Homo sapiens: one gene and its partners. The protein of the gene in region 1 purifies or fractionates together with the protein of each later gene. This does not show direct contact. Each region holds a gene or a part of one and is shown in the gene's direction. Other genes may lie near its edges.

Region 1 (7,621 bases):
ACTGTATGCTCCCTTATGTGTGTCTGTGTCTCTCTGCCCAAATTTCCATCCTTTTTTTCAGATGCAGTTTCGCTCTGTTTCCCAGGCTGGAGTGCAATGACGTGATCTCAGCTCACTGCAACCTCCGCTTCCCGGGTTCAAGTGATCCTCCTGCCTCAGCCTCCAGAATAGCTGGGATTACAGGTGCACACCACCACAACTGGCTAATTTTTGCATTTTTAGTAGAGACGGGGTTTCACTATGCTGGTCTTGAACTCCTGACCTCAAGTGATCCACCCGCCTCGGCCTCCCAAAGTGCAAATTCCAAGTTTGTTTTTTTTTTTTTTTTTGGAGTGCAGTGGCACGATCTCGGCTCACTGCAAGCTCCGCCTCCCGGGTTCATGCCATTCTCTTGCCTCAGCCTCCCAAGTAGCTGGGACTACAGGCACCCGCCACCACAGCCAGCTAATTTTTTTTTTTTTTTGTATTTTTAGTAGAGATGGGGTTTCACCATGTTAGCCAGGATGCCTCCCAAAGTGCTGGGATTATAGGCATGAGCCACCGCGCCCGGCCTTTTTTTTTTTCTGAGATGGAGTCTTGCTCTGTCGCCTAGGCTGGAGTGCACTGGCGCGATCTTGGCTCACTGCAAGCTCCGCCTCCTGGGTTCATGCCATTCTCCTGCCTCAGCCTCCCAAGTAGCTGGGACTACAGGCACCCGCCACCATGCCCAGCTAATTTTTTGTATTTTTAGTAGAGACGGGGTTTCACCATGTTAGCCAGGATGGTCTTGAACTCCTGACCTCGTGATCCGCCTGCCTCAGCCTCCCAAAGTGTTGGGATTACAGGCGTGAGCCACTGCGCCTGGCCGATTCCATGTCTTGTAAGGACAGCAGTCATCGGATTAGGGCAACCCCCCCCAATCCAGTGTAACCTCATTTTAATTTGATTATATCTACAAAGACCGTATTTCCAAATAAGGTCACATTTGCAGGTTACTGGGGTTAGGGCTTGAACACATCTTTTTGGGGGACAAAGTTCAACCCACAATGAGTAATTCAAATTTATTGTGGAAAAAATAGAAAATTCAGGGTGGGTGGGGTAGCTCATATCTGTAAACCCAGCACTTTGGGAGGTCGGGGTGGGAGGATCGCTTGAGGCCAGGAGTTTGAGACCAGCCTGGGCAACACAGTGAGACCCCATTTCTACAAAAAATTTTTCAATTAGCTGGGCATGATGGCATATACCTGTAGTTCCAGCTGCTCAGGAGGCTGAGATGGGAGGATGACTTGAGCTCAGGAGTTCAAGGTCACTTGAGCCCAGGAGTTTGAGACCAGCCTGGCCAACATGGTGAAACCCCGTCTCTACTAAAAATACAAAAATTAGCCGGGCATGGTGTCACATGCCTGTGATCCCAGCTACTCGGAAGGCTGAGGCAGGACAATCACTTGAACCCAGGAGGTGGAGGTTGCAGTGAGCCAAGATTGGTCCATTGCACTCCAGCCTGGGTAACAGAGCAAGACTCCATCTCAAAAAATAAAAAAATAAAAGATTGGGTGCAGTGGCTCACGTCTATAATCCTAGCATTTTGGGAGGCCGAGGCGGGTGAATCACCTGAGGTCAGGAGTTCGAGACCAGCCTGGCCAACATGGCAACCCCGTCTCTACTAGAAGTACAAAAATTAGCCGGACGTGGTGGCGGGCACCTATAATCCCAGCTACTCAGGAGGCTGAGGCAGGAGAATTGCTTGAACCTGGGTGGCAGAGGTTGCAGTGAGTCGAGATTGTGCCACTGCACTCCAGCCTGGGCAACAAGAGCAAAACTATGTCTCAAAGAAAAAAAAAAAAAGACACTGTCGCTGCCATCCTGGTTATTGGTTACATGCTCTCTCTCTCTCTCTCCCCCTTTCTCATAACATTTGCTCTGGAGGAAGCCGGTGGTCATGCCATGAGCAGCCTTATGGAGAGGACCATGTGGTAAGGAACTCAGCCAATAGCCATGTAACTGAGCTTGGAAGAGGATCTTGCTGTCCTGGCCAACATCTCACTGCAATTCTATCAGTTGAATTCCCTGGATAGTCCAAGCTTTGTGGATCCCTCCACCGAAACAACTGGATCCCAGTACCTGAATCCTGAATCTTAGACTCTTATACTTCAAACACTGATCACGGGAACAGCCGGCTCAGCGGCTCCTGAGTTCCTAATGCTCAGAATATGGGTGAGATGATAAATGTTTGTTGTGTTAAGCTGCCAACCTTTGGCGGGGGGGTAATTCGTCACATGGCAACAGCTGGCTAATACATATATACCTACATGTATATGATTTTGTCAGGTTTTTTGTTTGTTTGTTTGTTTGGTTTCGGTTTTGGTTTTTGAAACAGGGTTTCACTCTGTCCCCTCCCCAGGCTGGAATGCAGGGGTGCAATCATGGCTCACTGCAGCTTCAAACTCCCAGGCTCAGGTGATGCTCCCATCTCAGCCTCCGGAGTAGCTGGGACCACAGGCACACACCACCATGCCTGACTACTTTTTTTGTTTTTTAGAGACTGGGTCTTACTCTGTCACCCAGGCTGGAGTGCAGTGGCACAATCATAGCTCACTGCAGCCTCTAATTCCTGTGCTCAAGGGAGCCTCCCCCTTCAGCCTCCCAAGTAGCTGGGACTACAGGTGCACATGACCACACCTGGCTAATTTTAAAAAATTTTTGTAGAAAAATTTCTTGCTTTGCTGCCCAGGCTGGTCTTGAACTCCTGGACTCAAGTGATCCTCCCGCCTCAGCCTCCTGAGTAGCTGGGATTACAGGTATGCACCACCACACCCAGCTAATTTTCGTTATTTTTAGTAGACACGGGGTTTTATCATGTTGGCCAGGCTGGTCTCAAACTCCTGACCTCAGGTGATCCACCTGCCTTGGCCTCCCAAAGTGCTAGAATTACAGGTGTGAGCCACCACGCCCAGCCAAAAATAATTTTTAAAACTTAGCCGGGCGTGGTGTCCGCACCTGTGTTCCTAGCCACTCGGGTGGCTGAAGTGGGAGAACCACCTGAACAGAGAGGTCAAGGGGATTGACCTTAAGTGTGCCACTATACTCCAGCCTGGGTGACAGAGTGAGACCATTTCCCATCAGCTGTTTAGCAACCTTAATTCTTTTTTTTTTTTTCTTTTTTTTTTTTTTGAGACAGGGTCTCGCTCTGTCACCCAGGCTGGAGTTCAGTGGCAAGATCTCAGCTCACTGCAGCCTCCACCTCCCAAGCTCAAGCAACCCTCCCACCTCAGCCTCCTGTGTAGCTGGGACCACAGGCATGGACCACCATGCCCAGCTAATTTTTGTATTTTTTATAGAGACAGGGGTCTGGCCATGTTGCCCAGGGTGGTCTTGAACTCCTGGGCTCAAGTGATCCACCTGCCTTGACCTCCCAAAGTGCTGCTATTATAGGAATGAGCCACGGCGCCCAGCCTAGCAAAGTTTTGTTGTTGTTGTTGTTTGTTTGAGATGGAGTCTCGCTCTGTTGCCCAGGCTGCAGTGCAATGGCTCAATCTCGGCCCACTGCAACCTCTGTCTCCTGGGTTCAAGCAATTCTCCTGTCTCAGCCTCCAGAGTAGCTGAGATTACAGGGGCACACCACCAAACCTGGCTAATTTTTGTATTTTTAGGAGAGACTGGGTTTCACTATGTTAGTCAGGCTGGTCTCGAACTCCTGACCTCAGATGATCTGCCAACCTCGGCCTCCCAAAGTGCTGGGATTACAGGCGTCAGCCACCACATCAGGCCTAGCAACCTTATTTGTATCTGCAAACTTAATTCCCCTTTGCCATGTAACAAATGTAAGTCAGCCCAGGCTGCTATAAGGAAACACTAAAGAGCGGGGTCTTAAACTGCAGACATTTATTTCTGGAGGCTGGGAAATCCAAGGTTAAGGTGGCTGGCTAGCTCAGTTCCTGCTGAGGGATTTCTTCCTGCCATGCCTTCTTGCTGCGTCCTCCCATGGCAGACAGAGAGAGAGAAAGAGCTCTGGTTTGTCTTTTCCTTATAGGGAACTAATTCCATCTTGCAGGGGCCATCCTCATGAGTTCATCTAACCCTGAGGACCTCCCAAAGGCCCTGTCTCCAAATTCCAACCCACTGGGAAATAGGGCTTCAACATAAGAATTTTGCGGCCGGAAGCAGTGGCTCACGCCTGTAATCCCAGCACTTTGGGAGGCTGAGGTGGGCAGATCATGAGGTCAGGAGATCGAGACCATCCTGGCTAACACGGTGAAACCCCGTCTCTACTAAAAAATAAAAAAATTAGCTGGGCGTGGTGGCGGATGCCTGTAGTCCCAGCTACTCGGGAGGCTGAGGCAGGAGAATGGTGTGAACCCCAGAGGCGGAGCTTGCAGTGAGCCAAGATAGCGCCACTGCACTCCAGCCTGGGAGACTGAGCGAGACTCCGTCTCAAAAAAAACGATAATAATAATAATTTTGACAGGACACAATTCAATTTATAACGATAACATATTTATTGGTTTGGGGGATCAGGAGGTGGATACTTGGGGGAAGGGGGCCATCACGCTGCCCACCACACCTAGGAAGGTCACAGGGGCGTTTGTGACTTCATCCTCCTCTTGGTCCCCCACACAATCCTCCCACTAGACACTCCCGCATGGTAGCTGGAGCAGCAAACAACTGCTTAGGGATTTGAAGCCAGGTGTCCTAACTTCCTCCATGGGCGCTCAGCCTGGGGAACCTCAGAACACTTGCTCTAGGATCCAGACACTGTTTAGGAGGGTCAAGACCTTACTCATCAAAGCCCCGCCTCCCCCCCAACCTCCGCCTCCACCCCCATCCTGGAACCCTGGCTGTACACACGTGTATGGGTACGCGTTTGGCCACATGCATGACAACAACCTTGAACATCTCCCGTCACAGCAGGTGAGTTTAGGAAACACCAGTGTCCCGGCACCTCTGGTCAGGACTACAGGGAGAGGCCAGGCTACCCACGCCCTCTACAGGCCCACTCCCCTGCTAGCGGACCTAGAATTCCACCTTGAAGCAGGGTGGGGCAGGGAGGCAGGGCGCGATGGCTCCACACATGTAATCCCAGCACTTTGGGAGGTTGAGGTGGATGGGTCACTTGAGGACAGGAGTTCAAGACCAACCTGGCCAACATGCCGAAACCCTATCTCTACTAAAATTACAAAACTTAGCCAGGCATGGTGGTTGGCGCCTGTAGTACCAGCTACTCAGGAGGCTGAGGCAGGAGAATCGCTTGAACTCAGGAGGTAGAGGTTGCAGTGAGCCCAGATCTCATCACTGCACTCAAGCCAGAGCAACACAGCGAGATTCTGTCTCAAAAAATAAGAATAAATTAAGAGTCTAGATATAGTCCTAATTACATTTGTATTCCTCCTTGGATCCTCCATGAGTAACTTAGAGAGTCTATATTACATTGGCTGGGTGTGGTGGCTCACACCTGTAATCCCAGCACTTTGGGAGGCTGAGGCAGGTGGATCACCTGAGGTCAGGAGTTCAAGACCAGCCTGGCCAACATGGTGAAACCCTGCCTCTATTAAAATAATACAAAAATTTGCTCGGCACGTTGGCACTGTAATCCCAGCTACTGGGGAGGCTGAGGCAAGAGAATCACTTGAACCCAGGAGGCGGAGGTTGCAGTGAGCCGAGATCACACCATTGTCCCTACTTGGGAAGCTGAGACACGAGAATCGCTTGAACCAGGGGGACAGCGGTTGCAGTGAGCCAAGATCGCACCACTGTACTCCAGCTTGGGCGATAGAGTGAGACTCTGTCTAAAAAAAAACAAAAACAAAACAAAAAAAAACCAGGGGGGAGGGTTGAATCACTTGAGGTCAGGAGTTAGAGACCAGCCTGGCCAACATAGTGAAACCCATCTCTACTAAAAAAAAAAAAAAAAAAAAAAAAAAAAATTAGGTGTTGTGGTGCATGCCTATAATCCCAGCTACTCAGGAGGCTGCGGCAGGAACTGCTTGAACCTGGGAGGTGGAGGTTGCAACGAGCTGAGATTGTGCCACTGCACTCTAACCTGGGCAGCAGAGCAAGACTCCGTCTCGAAAAAAAAAAATGCAGACTTGGGGGAACAGGGTGGGTCTTTCACCAGGTGGGTGCCCTAGATGTGTGTCTGGGGAAGGTGCCCCAACCTGGCTGAGGATGAGGGAGGGCCGGGTCTGCCCTGCAGGTACTGGACACAGGAGAGCAGCTGATGGTCCCCGTGGAAGTCCTGGAAGTGGATAACAAGGAGGCCTTGTGGAAGTTTCTACTCTCAGGAGCTATGGCCGGGGCGGTGTCTCGCACGGGCACGGCACCTCTGGACAGAGCCAAGGTGTACATGCAGGTTTGTGTGGGTTGGGGGGAGGACGGGACCCAGCGCTGGAGCCACTGGGGAGAACGTGGGGTGAGGACAGATGGAGTTGACGTGGATGGAGTTCAGGATAGGAGTGCTGGCTGGAGTTGGGCTCTCCTGGACTAGCTGAGATTGAGGTTGTGGATGGTGATAGAGCTGGTGTGGACATGGCTTGGAGTCGAGTTTGAGGAGTTGAGAGAACTTGCCAGGGACAGGGACCAACGCTGGGCCAAGGTGGGGGTTGGAGGTCAGGGAATTGGGGATGGGGTCTTTGGACGAGTTTAAAGACAAGGTAGGGGCCAGGTGCAGTGGCTCATGCCTCTAATGCCAGCACTTTGGGAGGCCCAGGGGAGGTAGATCATCTGGGGTCAGGAGTTTGAGACCAGCCTGGCCAACATGGCGAAACCCTGTCTCTACTAAAAATACAAAAAAATTAGTCGGGCATGGTGGTGCGTGCCTGTAGTCCCAGCTACATAGGAGGCTGAGGCAGGAGAATTGCTTGAACCCAGGAGATGGAGGTTGCAGTGAGCCGAGATTGCATCACTGCACTCCAGCCTGGGCAACAGAGTGAGACTCTGTCTCAAAAAAGAAAGAAAAAAAAAAAAGGCAACATAGAACTGGAGCTACCTCAAGCAGGATATCTCACACCCATAGTCTCAGCTGCTCAGGAGGCTGAGGCAGGAGGATTGCTTGAGCCCAGGAGTTGGAGGCTGCAGTGAGCCATGATCATGCCACAAACTCCAGCCTGGGTGACAGAGCGAGATCCCTGGCTGAAAAAATAAACGGGTGCAGTGGCTCACTTTGGGAGGCCAAGGAGGGAGGATTACTTGAGCTTAGGAGTTTGAGACCAGCTGGGCAATATAGTCAGACCACATCTCTACAAAATAATAATTAATTAATTAATTAATTAAAAATTTAAAAAGGAGTCGGGCATGGTGACTCACACCTGTAATCCCAGCACTTTGGGAGGCCAAAGTGGGAAGATCGCTTGAGCCCAAGAGTTTGAGACCAGCCTGGGCAACATAGTAAGACCCCATCTATACAAAAAATTTTACAAAATTAGCCTGCCATGGTAGCACGCACCTGTAGTCCCAGCTACTTGGAAGGCTGAGGTGGGAGGATCACTTGAGCCCAGGAGTTTGGGGCTGCAGTGAGCTGTGATTGCACCACTGCATTCCGGCCTGGGCAACAGAACAAGATCCTGTCTCGAAAACATAAACAAACAAAAAAACAAGAAAGAAAAGGAAAAGAAGGCCAGGCGCGGTGGCTGATGCCTGTAATCCCAGC
Region 2 (7,022 bases), about 43 Mb from region 1:
TAGCTGGGATTACAGGCACCCGCCACCACGCTTGGCTAATTTTTGTATTTTTAGTAGACGCAGGGTTTCCCCATGTTGGCCAGGCTGGTCTCGAACTCCCAACCTCAAGTGATCTGCCCGCCTTGGCCTCCCAAAGTGCTGGCATTATAAGCGTGAGCCACTGCACCCAGCCTGGGATACAACTTGAAGGAAAAACTGTCAGGATTTGCAAAGGGATTTGATGATGGGGGTTGGGGAAGGAAAGAGATCGTCCCGTCACTGCAGGACCCCAGAGACGAGCCAGAGGACAGAGGGGAGATGCAGGCTTGGGGCACTGGTAGTAATTTAGCCACAGGAATTAGGGCTGGAGAATCAGGAGCCTTTTCTTAGCAAGCGTATGTTGAACGGCTGGTATGTCTCAAGAATTGTGCTGAATGCTGGGGACACTGGTGAACAGGACAGACTTGTCCACCCCCTCCATGAAGCTCCCAGCCCTGTGGGGGAGAAGGTGCAACATACAAATTGCAGTAGTCCTTCACACTAATACCTGGACACGGATGTTCACTGCAACATTATTCATGATAGCCGGAAAACAGAAACGGGCCAAATGCCCATCAACTGAGAAATAAAGTGTGGTCTATGTAGTGGAATATTACCGGGCCTTAAAAAATAATGACGTCCTGCTACATGCTGCCACAGGGATGGACCTTGAAAACATGACACCAAGTGAAAGAAGCCAGACACAGGAGGCCACGTGTTGTATGATTCCATGTTGATAGAGTATCTTGAATAGGCAGATCCATGGAGACAGAAAGATTAGTGGTTGCCTAGAGTAGGGGCTGGTGGGATGGGGAGTGACTGCTCATGAATGCATAGGTTCTTTTTTTATTTTTTGAGATGGAGTCTCACTCTGTCGCCCAGGCTGGAGTGCAATGGGGTGATCTCGGCTTACTGCAACCTCTGCCTCCCAAGTTCAGGCGATTCTCCTGCCTCAGCTTCCTGAGTAGCTGGGATTACAGGCGTGTGCCACCACACCTGGCTAATTTTTGTACTTTTAGTAGAGACGGGGTTTTTACATGTTGGTCAGGATGGTCTCGAACTCCTGGCCTCAGGTGATCCACTACCCCAGCCTTCCAAAGTGCTAGGATTACAGGTGTGAGCTACCATGCCCGGCAGCATTCAGAGCTTCTTTTGGGTTCATGAAAAAGCCTACAGCTGGACACGGCACATGCTTGTAGTCCCAGCTACTTGGGAGACTGAGGTAGGAGGATCATTTGAACCCAGGAGTTCGAATCCAGCCCGGGCCACATAGTGAAACCTCATCTCTTAAAAAAAAAAAAAAAAAAAAAAAGAAAGGTCCTGGAATTCGATAGTAGTAATGGTTGCACAACATCATGAATGTACTAAAGAACGCTGAATTGTTCACTGTAAAAGGGTCAATTTTATGGTATGTGAATTGTATCTCTTTTTTTTTGTGACAGTCACAAAAATGGCGCGATCTTGGCTCACTGCACCCTCCATTTCCCAGGTTCAAGCGATTCTCCTGCCTCAGCCTCCCGAGTAGCTGGGATTATAGGCGCCCGCCACTATGCCCCGCTGATTTTTGTATTTTTAGTAGAGACAGGGTTTCACCATGTTGGCCAGGCTGGTCTCGAACTCCTGATCTCGAGTGATCTGCCTGCTTCAGCCTCACAAAATGCTGAGATTACAGGTGTGAGCCACCGCGCCTGGCCGTATCTCGATTTTTTTTTAAATGGGGAAAGAATTTGCAGCTGTCCTAAGCCCAGTGAGGAAGAGGGCCATGGTGTTGAGAGAATGGGGATTCTGTGTGGTCAGCGAGCTGCGGCCTGGCTTTGCTTCACAAGAGACCTTTGGAGCTGTGTGGGCAGGAAGTAGGGGAGTTACCTAGGCTGAGGGCAGTGAGAAGAGCTGTGAAGGCAGAGGCGGGGCAAGTGCAAAGGTCCTGACTTCCGGACGCCATGGCGGGCATCTCTATCTAGTCCCAGCTACTCAGGAGGTGGAGGCAGAAGGATTGCTTGAGGCCAGGAATTTGAGACCAGCCTTGGCAACATAGCAAGACCCTGTCTCTCTTTCTTTTTTTTGACAGAGTCTGGCTCTGTCATCCCGGCTGGAGTACAGTGGTGCGATCTCAGCTCGCTGCAACCTCCTCCTCCTGGGATCAAGCTATCCTCCCGCCTCAGCCTCCTAAGTAGCTGGGACTATAGGCACATGCCATCATGCCCAGCAAATTTTTTTGTATTTTTCATAGAGTTTTTTTTTTTTTTTTTTTTTTTTTTTTTTTGAGATGGAGTCTTGCTCTGTCGCCCAGGCTGGAGTGCAGTGGCGCGATCTCCGCTCACTGCAAGCTCCACCTCCCGGGTTCACGGAGATGGGTTTTTATTATGTTGCCCGGGCTGGTCTCAAATTCCTGGGCTCAAGTGATCTGCCTACCTCGGCCTCCCGAAGTGCTGGGATTACAGGAGTGAGGCTCAGTGCCTGGCCCCCTTCTCTATTTTCAAGAATTCTTTTTTTTTTTTGGAAACGGAGTCTCGCTCTGTCCCCCAGGCTGGAGTGCGGTGGTGCGATCTCGGCTCACTGCAAGTTCTGCCTCCCGGGTTCATGCCATTCTCCTGCCTCAGCCTCCCGAGTAGCTGGGACTACAGGCGCCCGCCAACACGCCCGGCTAATTTTTTGTATTTTTTTTTTAGTAGAGATGGGGTTTCACTGTGTTAGCCAGGATGGCCTCAATCTCCTGACCTCGTGATCCGCCCGTCTCGGCCTCCCAAAGTGCTGGGATTACAGGCGTGAGCCACCGCGCCCGGCCCAAGAATTCTTTCTGGAAACAAAAAAAGGCCCTGATGCCCCAGTGAGACCCTGAGAAAAGGGCTGTGTGGCTGGTGCAGAGAGGGATGGGATCTGACGCTGGGGAGTGGGCAGAGGCTAGGTCCGTGTTTGTCCTGAGAGCTCTGGAGAAGGTTTCAAGCAGGAGCGAGGGAAGAGAAGGGCGGAGGGATGCGGAGGAGGAGGTGGGGAGAGGCAGGGCTCAGAGAGCAGCAGAGGGAAGAGTGTGGAGCCAGCCAGCAGGAGGATCTGAAGGGCACAGTGGGGCTATGGGGAAGGGTCTAGAAGGTGAAAGGCAGGCTCTAAGGAGGGCAGGGAGGGCAAATTCTGCAGATAAGGAGGGGGAGAGGTTGAGGCTGGGCCCAGCCCGAGGGCGTGTTCTGTCCTGTCTGCAGCAGGAATACAGCAGAAGTATTATCTCACAGGGAGCAAGGGCTGGGGCTGCCTCCTATCTAGGCAGAGTCTGGCTGGAGTGGGCCTTAGGAGAGTTGGACGAGTGAGCCAATGGGAGCGGGGTGCTGGCTGCACACTGCCCTGAGCTCTTCCATCAGAGCACATCCCACTCCAAATGGTGATCCACTGCAGTGGTGACATCGAGCCCAGGCCCTGGGTCTCACTCCAGCTTTGTCCTCTGTAGGTTCTAGCCCATGGGAGGCCTCAGGAGATGATTGCCAGTTGAATGAATGAATGAATGATGGAACCAGTCTTTCTTGAGTTCCAGCTGGGTGCCAGGCACTGTTCTAGGTGATGGGGCTACAGCAGTGAGCAGAAGTTCCTGCCCTAGGGTGCTCACGTTCTAGAGAGGAGATGGTCCACTACACAGGTGAATATTTTGGGGGCCGGACAGGTGGGAGTAGGTGTTGATGGAAAATGAGGCAAGGAAAGGGCTTGGGGATGGAGTTAAGGATGATGCTCTTATATAGGCTGGTCAGAGAGTGTCGCTGAAAAGGTGGCATTGGAGCAGAGAATCTAACTAAGTGGGGGAATGGTGCATGCATGACTCTGGAAGAGGGAGCTGCCTGTGCAAAGGCCCTGAGGCAGGATTGTGCTTGTAGTGGAGCAGGGACTTAGGAGGAGGAGAGGGCAGCTCCTGCCTTGGAGAGAGAGGACAGGAGAACCGGCCAGAGAGGGAACAGGGTAGATGGTGCAGGCCCTTGTGGGCTGCAGTGAGAACTTTACTTTTACTTCGAACTTGCTGGGAGCCATGGAAGGGGTTTGGAGGAGTGCTGGGGTCTGACTCAAGTTTTCACATGATCCCTCTGGCCTCTGTGAAGAGCACAGGAAGTCAAACAGATTTCAATTTGGTATCCCTTAAGAACGGGACAGATGCAGGCCTGAGCCCCAGCCCCACCCGTTTCCAGCTGGTTATTGTGTGATGGCTTTGGTCCACAAATCCGCATTCAACACCTCCCCTGTGCCAGGCTGCCCTGGGCCCTGGGAACACTGTGGGGACTGAAGCAGCCGTACATCCCTGGCCTCATGGCACTGGTGTTCCGATCCAGGAGGAAATGAACATGCAAACCCTTAATATGTAAGGAGGCAACTCAGGCAGGGTCTTGGTGGCCCAAATAGTTCGCCCTGCTGAGCAGGGGGGCTGACCAGGAGAATGAGAGGGTTTGATTTTGTTATTTACGAAGAATATATTTTCATCACCCAGGAATAGTGATGACCTTGAGAATATGAGTGGTGTAACCCAGCACCAAAATGCAAGCCATATATATGTTGAAATTTTCTTTTTTTTTTCTTTTTTTGAGACGGAGTCTTGCTCTGTCCACGCCCGGCATATGTTGAAATTTTCTTGCCACATTGCAAAAGCAAAACAGGGGCCAGGTATGGTGGCTCACGCCTGTAATCCCAGCACTTTGGGAGGCCGAGGCAGGCGGATCACGAGGTCAGGAGTTTGAGACCAACCTGGCCAACATAGTGAAACTCCGTCTCTACTAAAAATACACAAATTAGCTGGGCCTCGTGGCACACCTGTAGTCCTAGCCACTCGGGAGGCTGAGGCAGGAGAATCGCTTGAACCCAGGAGGTGGAGGTTGCAGTGAGCCGAGATTGTGCCACTGCGCTCCAGCCTGGGTGACAGAGAGAGACTTTGTCTCAAAAAAAAAAAAAAAGCAAAACAGGCTGAGCATGGCAGCTCACGCCTGTAATCCCAGCACTTTGTGGGGCCGAGGCGGGCAGTTTGGTTGAGCCCAGGAGTTTGAGAACAGCCTAGGCAACAAGATCCTGTCTCTCCCCACCACAAAAAAACTTTTAAAATTAGCCACGCATGGTGGCATGCACCTGTAGTCCTAGCTTCTTCGGAGGCTGAGATGGGACGATCGCTTGAGCCCAGGAGGTCGAGGTTGCAATGAGTCAAGATCGCACCACCACACTCCAGCCTGGACAATACAGCAAGACCCTGTCTCCATATATTTTTTAAAAAAGCAAAATAATCAGTGAAATTCATTTTAATATATTTTCTTTACCCTAGTATATCCAAACTATTATTTCAGTGTGTAACCAGTGTTTTTTGAGATGGAGTCTTGCTGTATGGCCCAGGCTGAGTGCAGTGTCAGGATCTCAGCTCACTGCAACCTCTACCTCCCAGGTTCAAGCGATTCTCCTGCCTCAGCCTCCCTAGTAGCTGGGACTACAGGTGTGCACCACCATGCCCGGCTAATTTTTGTATTTTTAGTAGATATGGGATTTTGCCATGTTGGCCAGGCTGGTCCCAAACTCCTGACCTCAAGTGATCCACCTGCCTCGGCCTCCCAAAGTGCTGGGATTACAGGTATGAGCCTGTGTTACCCAGGCTGGTCTCAGATTCCTGGGCTCAAGTGATCTGCCTGTCTCAGCCTCCCAAAGTGCTGGGATTAGAGGCGGGAGGCATTGCACCCAGCCTTCAGAAGGCTTTCTGAGGATTCAGGGCTGCTGGGGCTTGTACAGGAAGCACATCAGGTCTCGGTCTCTGTAGAGGAAATGTCCTTGGTCTAGAAGGCTCTGAAGGCCTTTGCGGTGAGATGCTGGGTGATGCCTGTGTTACCTTCATAAATGCACATTAGTCCCTCCAGGGCAGGGCCCAGGTTTGACAGGATGCCTTTGCTGGTAGTAACAGACCCACCCTGATCTGGGGCTTACATGTTTAGGGAAGGCGTTATCTCCCCTAACCAGAAGCTCCAAGGTAAGGCAGCTCCCTGGCCCCGTCAGCACTTCCCTTGACTCTGCCTTACTCTGCCTGGAGCAAGATGTTGGCCGCCTTCGCACCCGAACACCCCTCACGGCAACAGCCACTGGACGGAGCACGGCCTGCCCCTCCCATGGCCCCCCCCAGCACCTCAGAAAACTCTGGAGAGGCTGCGTGGTCTGGCCCCACCTGCTGTGCTCTTCTCCACCCGCCCCCGCCGCCGCCCGCATCCTCAGACTCTGTGCCTCTTTCATCACCGTCCGCCTGCCTTGCCTCATGCTGTCCTACCTCCAGGCCATTGCACCTGCTGGTCCTCCTGCCTGGAGCGCGCCTCCCCTTGTTTCTGCCTGGTCCATTTCAGCCTCATCTTTTGATCCTCAGATCCCAGCAGCTGTGTGCAGAGAAGCCTTCCCCGTCCCCTGCGCCATTCTCATTTTAGCCTCTCAGCCCCGAAATGTGTATACCTCTTTCAGAATACTTGCCACTGTCCCTGTCTGCCACCACTCCAATCCAGGGATGCCTCGAGAGCAGGGTAGATGTGACTCATCCTTAAGCCTGGCCCCAGAAATCCCATTGTGAATGAGAGAATCCCTTTAAAACTCTCTCACAGGCTTGCTTGCCTCCTGTGACAGTGAGCTCATTCCCCCTGTTGCTGGCCCTGAATGCCGGGTCATTCTTCCCATGATCCTGGTCTGTCAGAGCTGCCTCAGCCCTTTCCCCAGGCACCACCCCAGTAGCACCCATACAGTATCCCTGGGCTCCCTGGCCATCACGGGCCTTTAGATCTTTGCAGAGCTGGGCCTCTGCCAGAGCCCTCCCTTTGGGGCCACAACTGCTCCTGTTTTGAAGACCGAGAGCTTTTCTTCTCTCTCTGAATTCCTTTTTTTATAGCAAATTATACCAGTTATGCAGAAGATAGCATCAAATAGATGTGGACCATTTAAAGCCTATTTAAAGGCCAGGTGCAGTGGCTCATGCCTGTAATCCTAGCACTTTACTTTGGGAGGCTGAGGCGGGTGGATCACTTGAGGTC
Region 3 (7,469 bases), on another chromosome or scaffold:
CACCATGCCCGGCTAATGTTTTGTATTTTGGTAGAGATTGGGTTTCACCATGTTAGCCAGGATGGTCTCGATCTCCTGACCTTGTGATCCACCCTCCTCGGCCTCCCAAAGCACTGGGATTACAAACATGAGCCACAGCGCCCAGCCTTTTTCAGTTTCTTAAGGTGGAAGCTTAGATTATTTATCATGTCCTTTATTTTCTAATGTGAGCCTTGTAATGCTATAAACATTCCTGTGAACACTGCTTTGGCTGCATCCTATGAATTTTGGTACATTTAAATTGTTATTCAGCTCAAAATATTTTCAAATTTATCTTGAGACTTCCGTTTTGTCCAATGGGTTATTTTAAAGCATATTGTGTTATGATTTAATTCTGATATAGTCAGAGAACATATTTTATATGATTTCTGTTATATTGTTTAAAGATTTCAAGCCTAGGCAACATAGCAAGACCCCGTTTCTACAAAAAAAAAAAAAAAAAAAATTTAAATTAGCCAGGCATGGTCGCAGCTACCCAGGTGGCTGAGGCGGGAGGATTGCTTGAACTCCAGAGGTCAAGGCTGCAGTGAGCCATGATTGTGCCACTGCACTCTAGCTCTGTCACCTAGTGCAGTGGTGCAATCACAGCTCACTGCAGTCTCAACCTCCTGAGTTCAAGCAGTCCTAAGCAATCCTCATGCCTCAGTCACCACACATGGCCTTTTTTTTCTTTGGTAGAGATGGAGCTCTTGCTATGTTGCCCACGCTGGTCTCCAACTCCTGGCCTCATGCAATTCTCCCACCTCAATCTCCCAAAGTATTAGGATGACAGGCATGAGCTGCTGTGCCTGGCCTCACACTTTTGTTAAGGATTTCAAACTTTTGTTAAAGTTTGTTTTATGGCCAAGAATATAGTTTATCTTGGTGGATGTTCCATGTACACTTGGTCTAGAAAACTAGAGATCAATATCCTTCTGGAATATAGATGCAAAATTCCTCAAGAAAACAACAAAATGAATCCAGTAATATATAAAAAGTGTAATACATCACTATAAGTGGAATATATCCCAGGAATGCAAGGCTGTTTCAACCTATGAAAATCAGTGTAATTCAATCCATCATATTAACAGTAAAGAAAAATCACATGATCATTTTATGCAGAAAAAACAAGAAACAAATTCAACATTCACTCATGACCCAAAAACCCTCCCAAATTTGACAAATTAGAAATGTAAGAGATCTTTTGGGTGGCAAGGGGTTTCTGCAAAAACCCCTCAGCTGACATCATACTTAATGCTGAAGGACTGAATGCTTTTCCCCTATGATTGGAAAGAAGGCCATGGTGTGCATGCTAACCATTTCTGTTCAGCATTACACTGAAGCCCTGGCCAGTTCGATAAAGCAAGAAAAAACTAGAAAGCCAGACACATTAGAAAGGAAGAAATAAAACATACTATTCACAGAAAACAGGATTGTAGAAAATCCCGTGAAATCTACCAAAAACTTCCTAAGACTAAGAAGTGAGTTTAGCAAAGACACAGGCTCCAGGGTAAATATACTAACATCAGTTACACTTTTGTAATAGCAATAAACAATTGGAAATTAAACCATAAAAAACTACCATCTGTAATGGCACTCCAAAAATGAAATGATTAGGTATAAATTAGAAAGATATATGTAGGATGTGTATGCTGAAAACTTCAAAGTACTGATGAAAGAAATCAATGAAGATCTAAATAAGTGGAGAGATATACCATGTTCATAAATTCTGGTGTCAATTCTTCCAGGTTACAGGTCTACAGATTTAATGTAATCCCCATCAAAATCACAGCTGGATATTTTTTAAGATAGTGACAAGCTGAAACTCAAATTTATAGGAAAAGTCAAAAGAATTTGGATAGCCTAGGTAATTTGGAGAAAGAAGAACAAAGGACTCAAAACCTGATTTCAGGATTGACTCTAGGCCAGGTGCAGTGGCTCATGCCTGTAATCCCAGCACTTTGGGAGGTGAAGGTGGGAGAATTGCTTGAGCCTAGGAATTTGAGACTAGCCTGGGCAACATGTGAGACCCCATCTCTGCAACAACAACAACAACAAAAACACTAATCAAGACAATGTGGTAGGCCGGGCGCGGTGGCTCACGCCTGTAATCCCAGCACTTTGGGAGGCCAAGGCGGGCGGATCACGAGGTCAGGAGATCGAGACCATCCTGGCTAACACGGTGAAACCCCGTCTCTACTGAAAATACAAAAAAATTAGCCAGGCGTGGTGGCGGGCACCTGTAGTCCCAGCTACTCGGGAGGCTGAGGCAGAAGAATGGCGTGAACCCGGGAGGCGGAGCTTGCAGTGAGCTGAGATCGCGCCACTATGCTCCAGCCTGGGCAAAAATGCGAGACTCTGTTTCAAAAAAATAATAATAAATAAATAAATAAATAAGTAAACAAATAAAACCAATCCCTGACAATACCAAGAGCTGAGGAGGATGGGGAGCAACTGCAACACCTGTGGCACTGGTGGGAGCGTAGAGCTGTACAACTTCTTTGGAAAATAGCTTAGTAGGCCGATGTGGTGGCCCACGCCTGTAATCCCAGCACTTTGGGAGACCGAGGTGGGTGGATCACCTGAAGTCAGCAGTTCAAGACCAGCCTGGCCAATATGACAAAACCCTGTCTCTACTAAAAATACAAAAATTAGCCTGGCATGGTGACATGTGCCTGTAATACCAGCTACTCGGGAGGCTGAGGCAGGAGAATTGCTTGAGCCCAGGAAGTGGAGTTTGCAGTGAGCCAAGATCATGCCATTGCACTCCAGCCTGGGCGACAGAGGGAGACTCCATCTCGGAAAAAAAAGGAAAAAAAAGAAAAAGAAAATAGCTTGGCGGTTTCCTTTTTTTTTTCTTTTTCTTTTTTTTGAGATGGAGTCTTGCTCTGTCGCTCAGGCTGGAGTGCAGTGGTGATCTCCGCTCACCGCAATCTCTGCCTCCTGGGGTCAAGCGATTCTCCTGACTCAGCCTCCTGAGTAGCTGGGATTATAGGCAGACGCCACCAGGCACGGGTAATTTTTTTGTATTTTTACTAGAGACGGGGTTTTGCCATGTTGGCCAGGGTGATCTCGAACTCCTGACCTCAGGTGATCCGCCCACCTCAGTGTCCCAAAGTTCTGGAATTACAGGTGGGACCCACTGCGCCCGGCCGGCAGTTTCTTATAAACAATCATTTGATCCAGCAACCCCACTCCTGGGTATTTACACAAGAGAAATGAAAAGTTGTGTCCACACAGAAGCCGATGAGTGAATGTTTATGGCAGCGTCATTCATAATTGCCAAGCACCAGGAACAATCTCTGCGTCCTTCATTTGATGAATAAAACCATCAATAAATAAAACCATCTGAACCGGTGGTTCACACCGGTTACAGGATACCACTCAGCAATAAAGAGGAACCAGCATGAATCTCAAAATGCGAAGTGGTAGAAGCCAGACCCACAGGCGCGCTGCGCGACATCCCTTTTGTGTGACATTCTGGAAAAGGCTGCCTCTAGGGATGGAGAACAGAGAGAACTGAGCAGCCGCCACCAGCAGTCAGCAGGTACGGGATCCGGAGGGAGAATGTTCTGTAACTAAAGTTACACAACTCCACTGCACACCAAAAAATGTGGATTTTACTGAAACCAAACTTTTTATTTTACAGAGCACTGGACTTTTTAAAAAGCGGGGGCAGGGGAGACCAGTGTGCTGTGACTTTTAGGGGAAGGATGGCTTCCCTGGAGAGGACCTGGGCGGAATCCCCAGGGCTCCCGGAGAGAGGGGGAGTCACAGAGCGGCTACGCACGGGGCGCAGCGTTAAAACTTTGGAGAAGGAAAAAAAACAACAAAGCAGCGCGAAGGGAAGGAGGTCAGGGAGGTTAGCAAGGCGCCCACACGCCCTCGCAGTCGTACTGAGTAACGAGGGGAGTCGCGCACGTGGGTGGGGACAGAGCGGCCTAGGACACTGGGGGAGCCCCGGGCCGCGGGAGTGCGGCGGCCTGGGGGTGTCGGGGAGCCGAGCCGAGGCCGCGTGCTCCTCGCGCCCTCCCTGGTGTCTCCTCCCCAGGCCCTGCGTGCCCCGCCCACACCTGCCTTGCCCCGCCCACATCTGCCTCGCCCTACTCGCCCATCACACCCCCACCTCACGCCCCGCCCACAACCGCTGGGGCCCCGCCCCTGCCCGGCCAGCTCCTCCCGCCGCCCTCGGTCCCCCGCCCCCTATATGACCCGCCCCTTTCCAGCCGCGTCCAATCGGCCGCTCTCTGTAGTCGCGTCCCTCAGCCATCCGCCGCTCCTCCCACGCTTGAACTTCCCGAAGGACAGCCGAGCGGCCCAATGAGCTCCCGGGACGGCCTGAGCGGGAGCGTGAAGGGCCAATCCGGAGTCGGCGCGCGCAGGAAAGGCGGGCCGGCGTGACGGGCTGGGGAGGTGGTGCCAGGCTGGTTGCTAGCTGCCGCCGCTGCTCACCCCGGCCGTCCGGCCGCTTCATTGTCACCGGGCCTCGGGGCAGTGTTGGGGGTGGCGGGGCGCCAGGTCGCCGACCCGAGGTTTGGGCGCGACTGGTTCCGCATCCCCTCCCCGCCGGCCGAATCTGCAGGCCCCGCGCGCCAGGCAGGCTTCGCGGCTGCGCCCCCGGCCCGCGCAGGTGAGGGGGGCCCGGGCAAGGGAGGGGGTTGCAGGGCGCACGGAGGTTGGAGGGGTCCGGAGCCCGCGCAGGTGGGAGGCCCTGGTCCAGTGATGAAGTGATGGGGATCCGGGGCACGCACAGGTGAGTGGGGGGATCTGGTGCCCGCGCAATTGAAGGCGGGATCCGGGGGAAGTGAGGGGGATCCAGGGTGCGCACAGGTGAGGGAGGTCCGGGGCCCGCGCAGGTGAAGACAGGCTCGTGCCTGAGGGTGTGGGTCCCCACCTCCATCCCCTCCACCCTCTCCACCTCCCTCCACTCCCCTCCGGTCCCCAGGACAACATGGAGTCCAGTCCCGGCATCTCTGGCCCGGCTGCCTTAAGCCCTGGGGAAAATGGGGAGATGGGAGCTGCCCTGAGGACAAGTGGAGGGCTCTGCTCTGCGCGTGGGCTCTGGCCTCTCTGTCCAGGGTCAGGGTCAGGGTCAGGGTCAGCCCACCCTGGGAACCAGGTCCTGGCGCTGGTCATCAGTCCCCGCCCCTTCAGGTCCTGGGAGGGACACAGTTTTATCCAAGATGTAGTGGCCTCCCAGGCCTCCCTTCTTCTGGCTTGGAGGTTTCCATGGAGAGGCCCCGTTCGCCATCCCAGAGCCGCTTGCAAGTGTGGCTGGGAGAGCAGAGTCCTGGGCTCCAAGGGCTTGCATGGGTCCAGCCAGGGGTGGACAGTGCCCTGCAGGAGGAGGGTGTTAAGTTTCTTCCGCACAGCCGGAAGTGCATAACTGAGGACTGGGACCTGGTCAGTGGCAGGGTCAGCCTCTAGGGAGTAGGGGTATCCATCGCTCCGTGGAAGGGACCTTGGGGGACCTGCTGTGGGGTGCCGGGCTGAAGGAAGCCCAGGGTGACCTTGGGCGATAGGCTGGGTGCCTGCTGGCCTACTGGAGGCCACCGTGGCAGGGAGGTAATTCTCGAGGTTGGTCCCTGGCGCCAGCTTCTCCCGTTCATCTACGGGTTCAGCTGAGTGCCTTTCCCTGCAGGTGCTGGGGTTGCTCAGGAGCCACACAATTCATAAACCAACTGTGTGCGGCCACAGGAAGGGAGTCCGAGCCGGATGGGGAGTGAAGAGTGATGGGTGCTCAAGGAAGGCCTCTGAGTGCAGGGAGGGAGTGTCCTGAGACCTAGAGGCAGGGGACTGGCCGGGGCCAAGCTGGCTGAGTTTGAGGAGAACCAGGGAGGCTGTGTTGGCTAAAGCCACAACAAAGGGGCACAGCAGGGGAGCTGGCGAGGTCACAGAGAGTACAGGGCCAGATCTTGCAGGAGTTGGATGTGTAGACTTTATTCTCTGTGCCTAGGAAGCTGTTGCAGGGTTTTTGGCAGGGGCACATGCACGAGCTGAGACCCGTTCAGAAAGATCAGAAAGACTCGTTCAGAAAGAGGTGCCATGTGGGGACGGGCTGGGGGCCGGCAGGGTTTGCTCTGAGAAGTTCCAAAGTAAGGAAGCCAGCATCCCCAAGCTAATCCCCTCGATCGATCGTCAGAACCCCCGTCCCCTGCTGGAATAACACATTACCCAGGGAGTGTTTGCCCGGTGCAGCCTTGAGGCCTTGAGACCAGCATCTTGTCTGGACCTCACAAAACCACTCCCGCGTTTTTTTTTTTTTTTTTTTTTTGAGATGGAGTCTCGCTATGTTGCCCAGGCTGGAGTGCAGTGTCACGATCTTGGCTCACTGTAAACTCCGCCTACCAGGTTCAAGTAATTCCCCTGCTTCAGCCTCCCAAGTAGTTGGGATTACAGGCGCTCGCCACCACGCCCGGCTAATTTTTTGAAGTTTTTAGTAGAGGTGGGGTTTCACTGTGTTGCTTAGGCTGGTCTTGAACTCCTGAGCTCAGGCAATCTGCCTGCCTTGGTCTCCCAAAGTGCTGGGATTACAGGAGTGAGCCACTGTGCCCGGCCAACACGCAACCCCTTTTTAAAATGTGTATTTTTACTTAGGGGCCGGGTACGGTGGCTCATGCCTGTAATCCCAGCACTTTGGGAGGCCGAGGCAGGCGAATCACCTGAGGTCAGGAGTTCGAGACCAGCCTGGCCAACATGGCAAAACCCCGTTTCTACTTCTACTAAAAATACAAAAATTAGCCAGGCGTGGTGGCGGGCACCTGTAATCCCAGCTACTCAGGAGGCTGAGGCAGGAGAATCGCTTGAACCCGGGAGGCAGAGGTGGCAATGAGCCGAGATCGCGCCACTGCACTCCAGCCTGGGTGACAAGAACGAGACTCTGTTTCAAAAACATAATAAAATAAAAAATAAATCAAATGTCCCTTTTACAGAAGAAAACAGTGGGGCTCGGGGCAGTGACTTTCTCAGAATCACGGTGTGGGGTAGATGGCAGAACCTGGCTCACATCGACAATGGCCTGTGGCCCAGGCTCCCTCTGGGGTGCTGCTGGCTTATTCCCACCCACGGGCCTTGCCCTCGCCACCCACCTGTCCATCATCCAGGGCCCTCCTGCCCTGGCATACACTGACATTGGGCTCAGAACAGCTCCCTCATGTTCCTGTCGAGGAGCCTGCCACCAGCCAGAGGGGTGCATAGGTTGTGACAGGCCTTCCCAGGAAGTTTGGTGGCCAGTGGACCCAGCTGAGGCTGGGCTGGAGATGGTGGGTGCAGGGGACTGTAGTTCCCCCACGGCATCTCATTGCAGCTCTTGCTTCCCCGCTCAGGACCTGCCTTGTCCACCATGAAAGGCACCCGGGCCATCGGCAGCGTCCCGGAGCGCAGCCCAGCAGGTGTGGACCTGAGTCTGACAGGTCTCCCTCCGCCTGTGTCCCGGCGTCCTGGCAGTGCCG

Evidence for each region. Proteins that work in one complex are often made in the same cells at the same time.
Region 2: the proteins of SLC25A41 (region 1) and AP2A1 purify together in Homo sapiens (affinity purification with mass spectrometry; 3 studies listed by BioGRID and IntAct, with this or other methods). This does not show direct contact.
Region 3: the proteins of SLC25A41 (region 1) and CEP131 purify together in Homo sapiens (affinity purification with mass spectrometry; 3 studies listed by BioGRID and IntAct, with this or other methods). This does not show direct contact.

The regions. Positions count from the first base shown.
Region 1 is NC_000019.10:6,430,753-6,438,373, reverse strand, and holds the start of SLC25A41 (mitochondrial carrier protein SCaMC-3L), read left to right. Parts: upstream 1-4,610; 5' UTR 4,611-4,680; coding exon 4,681-4,887; intron 4,888-6,169; coding exon 6,170-6,325; intron 6,326-7,621. Other genes in the region: mitochondrial adenyl nucleotide antiporter SLC25A23, read left to right, coding at 1,910-2,054. UniProt on the Homo sapiens protein: Calcium-independent ATP-Mg/Pi exchanger that catalyzes the electroneutral exchange of Mg-ATP or free ADP against an hydrogenphosphate and participates in the net transport of adenine nucleotides across the mitochondria inner membrane.
Region 2 is NC_000019.10:49,769,997-49,777,018, forward strand, and holds part of AP2A1 (AP-2 complex subunit alpha-1), read left to right. Parts: intron 1-7,022.
Region 3 is NC_000017.11:81,219,948-81,227,416, reverse strand, and holds the start of CEP131 (centrosomal protein of 131 kDa), read left to right. Parts: upstream 1-4,451; 5' UTR 4,452-4,648; exon of another isoform or gene 4,649-4,771; intron 4,772-7,343; 5' UTR 7,344-7,360; coding exon 7,361-7,469. UniProt on the Homo sapiens protein: Component of centriolar satellites contributing to the building of a complex and dynamic network required to regulate cilia/flagellum formation.